2 separate regions of the Homo sapiens genome follow, and region 1 is linked to region 2. The links come from fine-mapping of genetic effects on gene expression. A gene starts in region 2. The other region holds a variant in brackets. All regions are shown on one strand. Distances are between the middles of the regions.

The links.
Region 1: its variant is fine-mapped to the expression of SHQ1 in whole blood (INTERVAL, PIP above 0.99).

The regions. Positions count from the first base shown.
Region 1 is chr3:72,715,833-72,718,745 of GRCh38, reverse strand. LOC105377161 (a long non-coding RNA gene) reads left to right here and starts at 2,305. Exons shown (of 11, transcript XR_940962.3): 1 at 2,305-2,346. The variant C/T (reference allele first, on the strand shown) is at 1,143.
Region 2 is chr3:72,846,835-72,849,747 of GRCh38, reverse strand. It overlaps SHQ1 (SHQ1, H/ACA ribonucleoprotein assembly factor), which reads left to right and starts at 1,303. Exons shown (of 11, transcript NM_018130.3): 1 at 1,303-1,550. The coding sequence starts at 1,408. RefSeq lists an enhancer at 985-1,084.

The DNA.
Region 1 (2,913 bases), 130 kb after region 2:
ATCCATGGTTTTGCTTTCGGAGATTTTAGTTACTTTCAATCGACTGCAGTCTGAAAACAGGTGACTACAGTAAAATAAGATATTTGAGATAGAAAGACCACATTCACATAACTTTTATTATAGCATATTGCTATAATCGTTTGATTTTATTATTATTTATTTTATTATTTATTTATTATTATTGTTGCTAATCTCTTACTGTGCCTAATTTATAAACTTAATCATAGGTATATATATATATAAGGGAAAGAACATAGTGTATATGCAGGGTTTAGAACTAACTGAAGTTAGGCCGGGCGCAGTGGCTCAAGTCTTTAATCCCAGCACTTTGGGAGGCCGAGGCAGATGGATCAAGAGGTCAGGAGATCGAGACCATCCTTGTTAACACGGTGAAACCCTGTCTCTACTAAAAATACAAAAAAAAAAAAAAAAAAAAAAGAACTAACTGAAGTTGGATGGGCACAGTGACGCACACCTGTAAACCCAGTACTTTGGGAGGCTGAGGCAGGTGGATACCTGAGGTCAGGAGTTTGAGACCAGCTTAGGCAACATGGTAAAACGCCATCTCTACTAAAAATACAAAAGTTAGCTGGGTGTGATGGCACACAGCTGTAATCCTATCTACGAGGCTGAGGCAGGAGAATCACTTGAACCTGGGAGGCGGAGGTTGCAGTGAGCCAAGATTGTGCCACTGCACTCCAGCCTGGGTGACAGAGTGAGACTCCGTCTCAAAAAAAAAAAAAAAAAAGAAAAGAAAAGAAAAGAAAAGAAAAGAAAAGAAAAAAGAACTATCTGAAGTTTCAGGCATGCACTGAGGGTCTTGGAACATATTCTCCTGGATAAGGGGGCACTGCTGTATTAATTGTACACACCTGTGTGTGAGGCATTGTTCTAAGGGTTTACCCATAGTCTCTTCTTTAATCTTCACAGTATAGCAACTATTATTACATTTTACAGATGAGGAAACTGAGGCCCAGGAAAGCAGAATAACTTGACCAAGGTTACATACCTAGTACTTTTAAAATCAGCTTTGGTGAGGTATAGCTTTCATATAATAAAATGCACTCATGTTCAAGCACAGTTTTGGCAAGTGGGTACACCTGTGGAATCCTCACCAAACTCAAGATATGTAGCCTTTCCAT[C/T]CTCCAACAATTCCCTCCCCTCTGCCACTTAGCAGTCTGTCCCTTCCAGTACCCAGCAAATACTAACCTGGTTTCTGTCCTTCAATGTTTGGCTTTTCTAGAATGTTATATAAAGTGGAATCACACAGCATGCACTCATTTATGTTTGGCTCTTTTACTCAGCATAATTATTTGAAATTCATCCATATTTTTCTGTGGATCAATGGTCCATTCATTTTTATTGCTGAGTAGTATTCTATTATGTGGAATATATCACAGTTTGTTTATCCAGTGCCTTTTGATGGACATTTGGGTTGTTTCCAGTTTGGGGATATTGGGAATAAATCTGCTATGAGCATTCATATGTAAGTTTTGTGGGCACATATGTTTTTATTTCTCTTGGGTAAATACCTAGAAATGAAATTGCTGGATTTTGTTTAGCTGTATGTTTAACTTCATATGATTTTATGCACCTCTTATGATTTATGGCTTAGCTATTTGTATGGCACCCAGACGGTTTCAGGAATAATTGTAAATGGTTGAACCCCAGAGAATTTTCCTGTCTCACTGGGCCATCCTTTTACAATCCCCCCTGGAAGGGCTGGTATTAGATGGCAGAAGTAGCCTTGATGGGGTGGGAGGAGCAGGGTGGGGGTCATGGATCCGCCCATGTCTTGGGCGGGCATGTCTACCCTCTGGGGCCCAATCTCCTCAAATGGGGAGAGTTTAATGCAATGGTGTGCCAGTAAATGTTTAATAAATGCTGCTTCAGAAAAGCTACATATGCTCTTGCATATATTTTTAAGAAATTTTACTGAGTAAACAATTTGAGAATAATAAAATGTGCAAAAGTCTTTCTTATAAATTCCACACAGCCAGTTGATTTTCACAAAATACTTTTATAGACTTTGCTCAACTCCCATATCAGTAGCCAACCAATAGTTGCAAATCATGAGTGAGTGCAGTTTGGATACGAATGTTGGTTGATATTTTTGCTTATGTTAAAGAGTAAGAGGCCAGGCGCAGTGGCTCATACCTGTAATCCCAGTACTTTGGGAGGCCAAGGCAGGCAGATCACCTGAGGTCAGGAGTTTGAGACCAGCCTGGGCAACGTGGTGAAACCCCATCTCTGCGGTTCCAAGATGGCCGAATAGGAACAGCTCCAGTCTATAGCTCCCAGCATGAGCAACGCAGAAGACGGGTGATTTCTGCATTTCCAACTGAGGTACTGGGTTCATCTCACTGGGTCTCATTGGACAGTGGGGGCAGGACAGTGGGTGCAGCCCACTGAGTGTGAGCCAAAGCAGGGTGAGGCATCGCCTCACCCAGGAAGTGCAAGGGGTCAGGGAATTCCCTTTCCTAGCCAAGGGAAGGGGTTACAGACGGCACCTGGAAAATCGGGTCACTCTCACCCTAATACTGCACTTTTCCAATGGTCTCAGCAAATGGCACACCAGGAGATTATATCCCGCGCCTGGCTTGGAGGGTCCCACGCCCATGGAGCCTTGCTCATTGCTAGCACAGCAGTCTGAGTTCGAACTGCAAGGCGGCAGTGAGGCTTGGGGAGGGGCGCCCACTATTGCTGAGGCTTGAGTAGGTAAACAAAGTGGCCAGGAAGCTCGAACTGGGTGGAGCCCACCGCAGCTCAAGGAGGCCTGCCTGCCTCTGTAGACTCCACCTCTGGGGGCAGGGCATAGCCGAACAAAAGACAGCAGAAACCTCTGCAGACTTAAATGTCCCTGTCTGACAGGGACTTGAAGAGAGTAGTGGTTCTCCCAGCATGGAGTTTGAG
Region 2 (2,913 bases):
GGAATATATAATGCCTACTTCATAGAGCGGTCAGGAGGGAGAATGAGATCATTACAAAGGGTTTGCTGCAGTGCTGGCACATAGTAAATATTCAGTTAATGTTAGCCCCTGTTACTATTAATTTTTTTTCTGAGTCCTAATGAAGTTTCAAGAATGTCTCCTTAGAATCATAAAACAGCTGGAGATTGAAAAGACTTTTGAAGTTTTCTGGTTATCTCCACTGTCCTAGGAGAGTACTTTTCATCCCTTTTCCACTGATACTTAAAACCACGGAATAAATACCACAACTGGATTATTCTAATTAGTGGTGGAATAACAGGAAACAACATGTGTGGAAAGGCCAAGGGAATATGTGGGGGAAGAGGGAAACCAGCGGGAGAGGCACTGAGAGAGTGTAAGGGGCACACTCCAAAGGGAGAAAATACAAGGAAGACAAGTAGAAAAAAAGACAGAAAAGATGTCCTCAGACAAGTGTAAGGACAAGAGTGAGAAAAAGGAAAGAAGGGGAATACAGAGGGACCTTAATTTGTGAATGCAGTCACCGACACGGTTTAAGAGTCAAACGTTCTGAGTTCTAATTACTGTAAAATGCATGGTTATAAAACGTACTGATTAACCTCTCTGAGCCGTTTTCTTTAGAGTTTGCAGCGTAGATTAGATGAGATTAGCGGGACGGACGCTCTGTTAAAGAGAAAACTCTTCAAATAAGCCGTTAAGAATGAGAGAGAAAGCTGCAGAAAAAGAGAAGTGGAAAGAGAGAGGGAGGAAAGGGAAAGTGTAAGAGGAATTGTTCACAAGGCAGGTGAGAACTAAGGGAAACCACTGTAACGGTGCTGCTGTGGCTACTGCGGTGACTACTTCAGCACATCAAGCGTTGACAACTTGCCAAGTTCGTTATTAGAGTTCTACATGCACAATTTCATGCTACCCTCACAGCATTTCTATGGGGCTAGGTTCTCGCATTATCCGCGTTTTACAGAAGATATAGAGAGGTTTTGTAACTTTCCCAAGGTCTTACAGCTGAGAAGTTGTGGCCAGGAAGGGATTCAAACGCACGTCTGTTTACCTGTCAAGCCAGTGCTGTTAAAATCATCTCTAAGAACCTCGAAAAAGGCTCGGTTGCTAGTCATCCCGCCGGTTCAACGCCGGCTCCCAGGCACCACTCGCCACGCCCTTTCTCCGCCCGGGGGTTTTGAAAGTTCCGCCTCTTCTCGAACGGCGTCCCGTCTCCATGGAGATTGGCGTGGGGAGAGACTTCCTGCCTTACGCGCGAGCACTTCCGCCTCGAGCCGGAAGCTCCGTCCCTCACACCGAGAGTTCCTGCGCGTGGGGAGTTGGAGAGTTTGCGTGGCGGGAACGCGGCGGCAGTGAGAGCGAGCGGCGCCGGCCCTTGCGTCCGGTGCGGCGATGCTGACCCCGGCGTTCGACCTCAGCCAGGATCCGGACTTCCTGACTATCGCCATCCGCGTGCCCTACGCCCGGGTCTCCGAGTTCGACGTCTACTTCGAGGGGTCTGACTTCAAGTTCTACGCCAAGCCATACTTTCTCAGGCGAGTTCGGGGTGCCTGGCCGCAGGAAAGGCGCATTCGTTAGATAGCTGCTTTAGAGGGAGAATGCAAGGTCGAGAGAGCAGTGCTCGATTGCGCGAATGCCTTTTCCCGACGTTTCCGCAGCTTCTCTTGGTGCCAGGGAACTGCCCTCTTCCAGGGGTGCGTTTTAGATGCTGCGGAAGCCCTTTTCCTTCTTGAGCTTTCTTAAATCCCATATCAAAGGATTGCGGAATCACTTGAAAAAGTGACGTTTGGACCGTGTCACTTTCCCGTTTCTGCCCTGTCGCCCTAGTTCTCGTCCCGTTCTGACTTGTTCTGTTCTTTCCTTTCACTCCGCGTTTGCTCTCCCAGTCTCTCCCTTCCTGGGAACGGCGCGCGCTGACATCTCCGTGACTTCCCAACCCGTCGGTCCTTTTAACTTTGCCCAGGCCGCCTTCTGTTGATCTATCTCTTGTCTGTCCGCTCCCTACTTACCGAAATTCTTACCTTTTTTGGACCTCTTGACACCAAATTAGCCTAGTTCTCCTGCTTCCCTGCTGTCTGCTGCTCTTCTGTTTGGTTTTGTCCCTGAAGTGTGGTTGTTTCCCCCAAGTCTCCGTGAGGGTCTGTCAGCACTTGATCTGTTTAAATTATTCTCCTTGCAGAATCGTAACCTTGGTAGCAGCTAACACTGATAACTCGTAGTGTGGTGGACAAGCAGTTCCGTTAAGTGCTTTATGATGGTGTATCTCATTTAACTTTGACGGTGATCCTTAGGGATAAGCACTGCTATTAACCCCATTCCACAGAACCCGCTGCTACATATTCATCCTAAAGTATTGCCAATCTCTTGTCCTTCTCTTTATCCATCCTCCTAATCTTTCTGAAGTGTAGCTGCATCCTACTTTTCCCACCCAAGTACTTTTGTGGTACAAACCTTCTCCACCAGTCAAGGTGGTTTTTTCACTGTTGCTGAACCAGTTTTGCTCAGATTTCCCTTAGACCATATAACGTCCGTATTTGAATTATTGCACTTTCCAGTTTTTTAATTCACTTATTTCTTTAATTTATTTATTGAGTTTCAGTGTTGGTATTATTGTGCTGAACAAGACAAAGTCCTGCCCTCATGTACTTTTCACTGGGGAGAGGAAAACAATAAACAGTGTACTTAATTGTGGTGAGTGCTATGAGGAGAAAGAAGTGCACTAATAGAGAATGAAAAAGGGCCCATGTTTTATAAAGTGGTCAGGAAAAGCCTTTCTGGGGAGGCGATATTTAAGCCAAGATGTGAAGAATAGGAAGAAGATTATGGTGGTAGCAAATATTTATTGAATTTTTACTCCAGGTTAGTGCTTTATACGGATTATCTCATTTGTTATTAGGA